Homo sapiens: one gene and its partner. The protein of the gene in region 2 purifies or fractionates together with the protein of the main gene of each other region. This does not show direct contact. Each region holds a gene or a part of one and is shown on either strand. Other genes may lie near its edges.

Region 1 (3,747 bases), on a different chromosome or scaffold from region 2:
AAGGGCCATTGATAACGCAGCCTGGATGGGGTTGCTCAGCCTGACCAGCGCCGCCGCCGCCCAGCCCACATGGGACGTGGGTTGCTGCTTCCAGCTCTTGTTCCGGATTTCTTTTCTTTTCTTTTTTTTTTTTTTAAGACAAAGTCTTGCTCTGTCGCCAGGCTGGAGTGCAGTGGCGCCAGCTCACTGCAATCTCCACCTCCTGGATTCAAGTGATTCTTCTGCCTCAGCCTCTCAAGTAGCTGGGACTACAGGTGTGCACCACCACACCCAGCTAATTTTTGTATTTTTATTAGAGATAGGGTTTCACCTAATCTTGATCTCTTGACCTCGTGAACTGCCCACCTCAGCCTCCCAAAGTGCTGGGATTACAGGCGTGAGCCACCGCGACTGGCCTCTTGGTCCGGATTTCTGTCTGAGTGAGGACGCTCCTGTTTGCACATAACAGAAGCCCTTAGAGTTTGGTGTTTGGGGGCAGTTGTTAAGGAGTCTGCGTTGTCTCAGGGAGTCCAAGGTAAAAGGAATGAGCTGGGGCCATGGCTGGGTGTGGTGGCTCACACCTGTAATCCCAGCACTTTAGGAGGCTCAGGTGGGAGGAGGGTTGAGCCCAGGAGTTCAAGACCAGCCTGGGCAACACATTGACACACTGTCTCTACAAAAAATTTTTAAAATAGCCTGGTGTGGTGGTGCTCACCTGGAGGTGCGCCACCTACTTGGGAGGCGGAGGGAGGATCACTTGAGCCCTGAGGCTGCAGTGAGCCATGATGGTACCACTGCACTCCAGCCTGGGTGATAGAGCAAGACCCTGGCTCACAAGAAAGGAAGGAAGGACAGACAGAAGGCAGAGCTGGGCCGTGGGCTCTGTTGGGTGCCACTGTCCCCGGGCCTCCTGCTACATCTGCCTCGCTCCCGTCCTGGCTTGCTGCCAGCTGTCTCCAGCCTCCTTTGCTTTCCCAGCTGTCCCGCAGAGTAAGGCAGTGCCCAGAGCCTGCGTTTCTGTCCCCTCCCCTCCCAGGACTGGGTGGGCCGAGGCTAGAGGTTTAGCCCTGTTTCTAGCCCCGTTTAGCCTCGTTTCTGTTTGTATATTTTTAAAATTCTATTTTTTTAAGAGACAGGATCTCACTATGTTGGCCAGGCTGGTCTTGAACTCCAAGTCTCAAGTGGTCCTCCTGCCTCAGCCTCTGAAAGTGCGGAGATACAGGTGTGAGTCACCACATCCGGCCCCACAGCCCCGTTTCTGGAGTGGCAGTGCAGGATTCTCGTCTACCTCATAACCATGGGGGTTAAGAAGGTGGGGAGGAGAAAAAAACTAAAAAAAACGAGGCGGGAACTGAATGGGCAAAATCAAAGGTGTCTGTGGCACACTGACGTCACCATCACTGTCACTCTGTCGTCACCACGATTGCCAGAGCCACCCTCGACTCACGTTCTCTTACATCTAAAATCGTTCCTGTCTGGCCTCTTTTTCAGCTGTGAAGGCTGCTTTCCTGGCGCAGGCCCCGAGTGGCAGCCGGTCAGCCGAGGTGCAGGCAGCTCAGAGCACGGAGCCTGCCGCAGAGGCAGGCGCTCCCGAGGGAGAGGGCCACAGAGGGGGGCCTCCCCGGGCGTTGGGGTCTCTTGGCCTTTGTGAAAACCAGGAAGCCAGAGAGAGGCCCGGAGGTTCCCCTCGAGGCCCGGTCACTTCTGAGAAAACTGGAGGACAGAGTGGCCTCGAGTCAGACGTCCCTCCGAACGCAGGCCCCGGCGCAGAGGGCGGGGGCAGCTGGAAGGGGCGGCCTTTCCCGTGCGGCGCCTGTGGCCGCAGCTTCAAGTGCTCCTCGGACGCGGCAAAGCACCGGAGCATCCACTCGGGGGAGAAACCGTACGAGTGCAGCGACTGCGGGAAGGCCTTCATCCACAGCTCGCACGTGGTCCGGCACCAGCGGGCGCACAGCGGGGAGAGGCCCTACGCGTGCGCCGAGTGCGGCAAGGCCTTCGGCCAGAGCTTCAACCTCCTCCGGCACCAGCGCGTGCACACGGGCGAGAAGCCCTACGCGTGCGCCGACTGCGGCAAGGCCTTCGGCCAGAGGTCGGACGCCGCCAAGCACCGCCGCACCCACACCGGGGAGAGGCTGTACGCGTGCGGCGAGTGCGGGAAGCGCTTCCTGCACAGCTCGAACGTGGTCCGGCACCGGCGGACCCACCACGGGGAGAACCCGTACGAGTGCCGGGAGTGCGGCCAGGCCTTCAGCCAGAGCTCCAACCTCCTCCAGCACCAGCGCGTGCACACGGGGGAGCGGCCCTTCGCCTGCCAGGACTGCGGCCGCGCCTTCAGCCGCAGCTCCTTCCTCCGCGAGCACCGCCGCATCCACACCGGGGAGAAGCCCCACCAGTGCGGCCACTGCGGGCGCGCGTTCCGGGCGCTGTCGGGCTTCTTCCGGCACCAGCGACTCCACACGGGCGAGAAGCCGTTCCGCTGCACCGAGTGCGGCCGCGCCTTCCGCCTGAGCTTCCACCTCATCCAGCACCGGCGGGTGCATGGCGCCGAGTGAGCCGGGGCTGCGGCGGAAGAGATGCCGGCGGCCTGGTGGGCGCGAGGCCGAGGCCGGGGGAGGCTCCTGTCCGCCCCGTGCGCGGTGAGGAAGTAACAGCCGGCTGCGCGCCTGGTTCTCGGGTTGCGAAAGCCTCGCCAGGCCTGCATCCGCCTTGGCTTGGGAGCAATCAGGAGAGACAGGGCTCGGGGAAGGCGAGCGCTGCCCGCGGGAGGCGATTCCCAGAGGCGGGGAGGTCTCAGGGGTCTGTCCCGGGCCGGCCGCCCGCCTCTGAGACTCCCCGCCTCCCACGGTCAGCTGCTGCGGGGCAGTGGCCGGTGATTGAATCGGTCATTCCTCCGCAACCAGGCCTCCATCAAAACCCTGCATGAGATGAGGGCCTCGGGCTTCGGGTTGGTGAAGGCGGGGTGGGGGGGCAGTTAGGAAGGGGGCGCCCAGACAGGGCATGGAAGCCTCGCGTCCTCCCCCGTACCTTGCGGGTCGGTGGTTCATCCATGTATTTCAACGCCTTTTCACAGCCGGTTCATATGGTCCCGACTTCTGTGTGCTTAGAAAATTATGGAACTTGGCCGGGTGCGGTGGCTCCCGCCTGTAATCCTAGCACTTTGGGAGGCCGAGGCGGGCGGATCACACGGTCAAGAGATCAAGACCATCCTGGCCAACATGGCAAAACCCCCATCTCGACTAAAAATACAAAAAATTAATTGGGCGTGGTGGCGTGCGCCTGTAATCTCAGCTACTTGGGAGCCTGGGGCAGGAGAATCACTTGAACCTGGGAGGCGGAGGTTGCAGTGAGCGGAGATCTGGGCACTGTACTTTAGCCTGGGCGACAGAGAGACCCATCTCAAAAAAAAAATTGGAACCTGAGAAGGGGGTCGTGGGGTCCCCGGGGCCCACCGTCTGCACTTGGCATCTGAAGTCGGGGTGGTCTTGTGGGACTGACCCCTTACCCTGTGGGTTCTGCACTAGCTCCGGGCAATTGGTGACAGAATCGAGTTAAATTGTAGGACATCGCGTTGGTGTCTGAGAGGGAGTTGGAGAGCTGGTTGGTGTGGAGGGAAAGGCTTACACACATGTGATTTCAGAAGCGTTCTGTGGGTAGAGGAATCGTTTTCTCTTTGAGACTGTTATGAGTATGTACAAATGTTATTTCCTGTAAAATATTTTCATTTTTTAAAATGTTATTTTCTAGATAGAAAAGTAGAAGTGTCTCTTT
Region 2 (3,747 bases):
GCCTCTGCAATGAGAAATACGTGCAGAAAATGTCCCAAGGTGAAAGGCATTCAGGAGCAGATCAATTGCTTCCATTGGTTTTCCTATCTGGAGGAGATGCTGCAACAAGCAATGAGCTCCAAGACCCCTTTATTGAGACCCTTGGACCCAACAGCGTCCTTCTGGGAAATAATCAGAGAAGCTGACAGGAAGCCTCTTTATGGCGCGTTTTTTTTTTTTTTTTTGAGACGGAATCTCGCTCTGTCACTCAGGCTGGAGTGCAGTGGCGCGAACTTGGCTCACTGCAACCTCCGCCTCCCGGGTTCAAGCAATTCTTCTGCCTCAGCCTCCTGAGTAGCTGGGATTACAGGCACCCGCCACCACACCCACCTAATTTTTGTATTTTTAGTAGAGACGGGGTTTCACCATGTTGGTCATGGCTGGTCTCGAACCCCTGACCTCGTGATCCACCCACCTCGGCCTCCCAAAGTACTGAGATTACAGCGGTGAGCCACCGTGCCCGGCCCTATGGCAGCATTATTTATACTGGTGAAACACTGCAAACCTCTTAAATAAGGGACAACAGACAAATAGTTATTTCAATTACAGCAACCACATATGTAACTGCTAAAAAAAAATTTTTTTTCTTTTTGTTTTTTTGAGACAGTCTTGCTCTGTCGCTAGGCTGGAGTGCAGTGGTGTGATCTCGGCTCACTGCAACCTCCACCTGCTGGGTTCATGCAATTCTCCTGCCTCGGCCTCCTGAGTAGCCGGGATTACAGGCATGTACCACTACACCAGCTAGTTTTTGTGTTTTTAGTAGAGACAGGGTTTCACCATGTTGGCCAGGCTGGTCTTGAACTCCTGACCTCAAGTGATCCACCCGCCTCGGCCTCCCAAAGTGCTGGGATTACAGGCGTGAGCCACCAAGCCTAGCGAAAAAAAAAATTATGTTGCAAGGAATTGTTAGTGATGCCTACAACATAAAGTTAGATGGGAAAAATAATAAAAGCTACAGATAAGATATAATCCCAGTTTTATAAAGCATACATATATGCTGCATGCTTAACATACATACACACACATACACACACTCACAAACACAGACACACCCAGGGAAAAGGGCAGGAAAAAAAACTTCATTTTAGTAACAAATATCTCCGGGTGGGGACTTCCAGAGAATGCTTATTTTCATCTTTCTCCTCTTACTTTCCAAATGTTCTACAATGAACTATCTCTTGCTTTTCTATTCAGGGGGAGAAATATTACTTTTACGAAGTTAAAACTCCAAAAAGGCTTTTGTCGCTCTGGAAAGATTGACAAGAAACTGGTCACAGTGACTGTTTCTGGGGAAGGTAACAGATTTTGTCCGTAGAAATGTTTTAAAAATCACAAGCAAATAATACATTCACAAACTAATTATTGAGTTTAGCGTCCCTCATCTTTTAAATGTCATTTTCCCAAGGAGCCTCCCCTGGCCAACCCTCCCAACTCTGGGTTCCATGCCCCTCTGTGGGCCCTGGCACCTTGCCCTTCCCAGTGAAGGTCCCCATGACAATGGAGCTGTTCTTGTCCTGTTACTTGTCTTCCTTCCTCATATTCAGAAACTCCCTAATGGGGCTGGGTGCGGTGGCTCACGCCTGTAATCCTAACACTTTGGGAGTCCGAGGTGGGTGGATCACCTGAGGTCAGGAGTTCGAGACCACCCTGGCCAACATGGCAAAACCCTGTCTCTACTAAAAATACAAAAATTAGCTGGGTGTGGTGGCACCCGCCTGTAATCCCAGCTACTGAGGAGGCTGAGGCAGGAGAATCATTTGAACCCAGGAGGTGGAGGCTGCAGTGAGCTGAGACCATGCTACTTCACTCCAGCCTGGGCAAAAGAGTGAAACTTCGTCTCAAAAAAAAAAAAAAAAAAAACTCCCTAACAGGGACCAACTGTGGCTCCCATAACCCCAGTCCCTAGCTCAGTTCCTGCCCCTAAGAAGTGCTCAATAAATAATTGTAAAATAACAGAAGTGACACATTTCTTTTGTTCTCATGTCTCTCTGCCCACTCTCAAACATCAGAGCCTATCTTGGCTCAGCTTAGCCTTGCAATACACTGGAGACCATCCTGGCAGGAGGGGGAGGAGATATAATTCCCGCTGTCCCCCTCCCCCTCCCCCACCACTCCCAGGCGTCTCACCTGTACACCTGATGCCAACAGCTGTCTCCGTCATCGAGAAGCCCACGGGGCACACTCGGGCCACCTCCTGACAGCCTCCATGGTTGCAGGTAAGGTCACAGCCGTACTCCCCACATGGTCCATGGGTTTCTAGAGCAGGCATCACACCAGTGAGCATGCACCCCGTGGCAGTCCCAACCATCCCCACTTCACCAGGGTCCTCCTGAATTCTGTTGGGAGGGTAGCTCTGAAGGCAAACAGGCCTGGGTTTAAATCCAGCTCTGCCATTTACCAGCTGTGTGACCCCGGGCAAGACAATAACTTCTGTGTCTCAGTTTCTTCATCTATAAAATGGGCACAAAATGTCTACCTAATGGAGTTGTCTGAAGCTGAGACACCAGGACACATCTCAAGTGCCCACTGCCCAGGACATAACCTCAATGCTCATTCATCTGTTCCCATCAGCCCCTTCCCATCCCCAGTTACCTGGGCAGGTGGCCCCTTGCTCTCCATCCTGGCAGGAGCAGACATTGGGAGCGATGCAGATGCCACTCCCACAGCCGAAGGAGCAGAGGGCTGAGAGGAGAAGTGCAGGTGAGACACGAGGAACTGGGGCCTCCCGTCTGCCCCTCGGACCAGGGACTGAGGGCTGGCAACACACACTGCTGGAGGAGAAGACTTGGGGCACAGGGACAAGCACTTACGCAGGGTGCAGTGCCCACCACCCATAGAGGGCGCCCAGCCAGGGCAGCAGCCACTCCCAAACCCAGAGAGGCAGACGTGGGGGCCCAGTCGGCGTCTGCAAGAGAAGAGAGAGCACTTTCCTCATTCTATACTGGGGGAGACATTGGTCAACAGGAAAGTCTCCCAGCCAGTGTGTAAGTGAATCAACAAACAATTCTCAAGAACTGTCTGGAGGGGCAATGGGAAGTTTCCAAAGAAAAATGACCCAAACAGTCTTCTCCTGGAGGCAAGACAGAGACAAAAGTGTGAGACAATAGATACTGGCCTCCTACAGATATCTGCCACGTGAACACACAGCAGAGTGGCCAGGAGAGGGGCCTCAGAGTTGAAGAAAGGCTGTGCAATAGATGAGGAGCCCCAGGGGTGGCTGCCTCAGGACCTTTGCACTTGCAGTTCCTGCTATAAGAAAGGTTCTTATGGCTGGGTGTGGTGGCTCACGCCTGTAATCCCAGCACTTTGGGAAGCCGAAGCAGGCTGATCATTTTGAGCCCAGGAGTTTGAGACCAGCCTGGGCAACATGGTGAAACCTCGTTTCTACTAAAAACACAAAAACTAGCTGGGCATGGTGACACACACCTGTAGGGTCAGCTACTCGGGAGGCTGAGGTGGGAGAATGGCTTGAGCCTGTGAGGCAGAGGTTGCAGCGAGCCAAGTTGGCGCCACTGCCCTTCAGCCTAAGTGACAGAGCCAGACCGTCTCAAAACAAAAAAAAAAAAAAGAGAGAGAGAAAGATTCTTCCTCAGACACACACTGGGCTTCCTCTCTCCCTTCACCCAGATCTCTGCCCATGGCACCTTCTCAGAGAGGCCTTCCTTGTCCACCCTTACCTTGCTTTATTCTCCACAACATTTACTTCCT

Evidence for each region. Proteins that work in one complex are often made in the same cells at the same time.
Region 1: the proteins of VWCE (region 2) and ZNF696 purify together in Homo sapiens (co-immunoprecipitation; 3 studies listed by BioGRID and IntAct, with this or other methods). This does not show direct contact.

The regions. Positions count from the first base shown.
Region 1 is NC_000008.11:143,294,270-143,298,016, forward strand, and holds part of ZNF696 (zinc finger protein 696), read left to right. Parts: intron 1-1,470; coding exon 1,471-2,531; 3' UTR 2,532-3,747.
Region 2 is NC_000011.10:61,288,633-61,292,379, forward strand, and holds part of VWCE (von Willebrand factor C and EGF domain-containing protein precursor), read right to left. Parts: intron 2,945-3,747; coding exon 2,850-2,944; intron 2,722-2,849; coding exon 2,632-2,721; intron 2,296-2,631; coding exon 2,167-2,295; intron 1-2,166.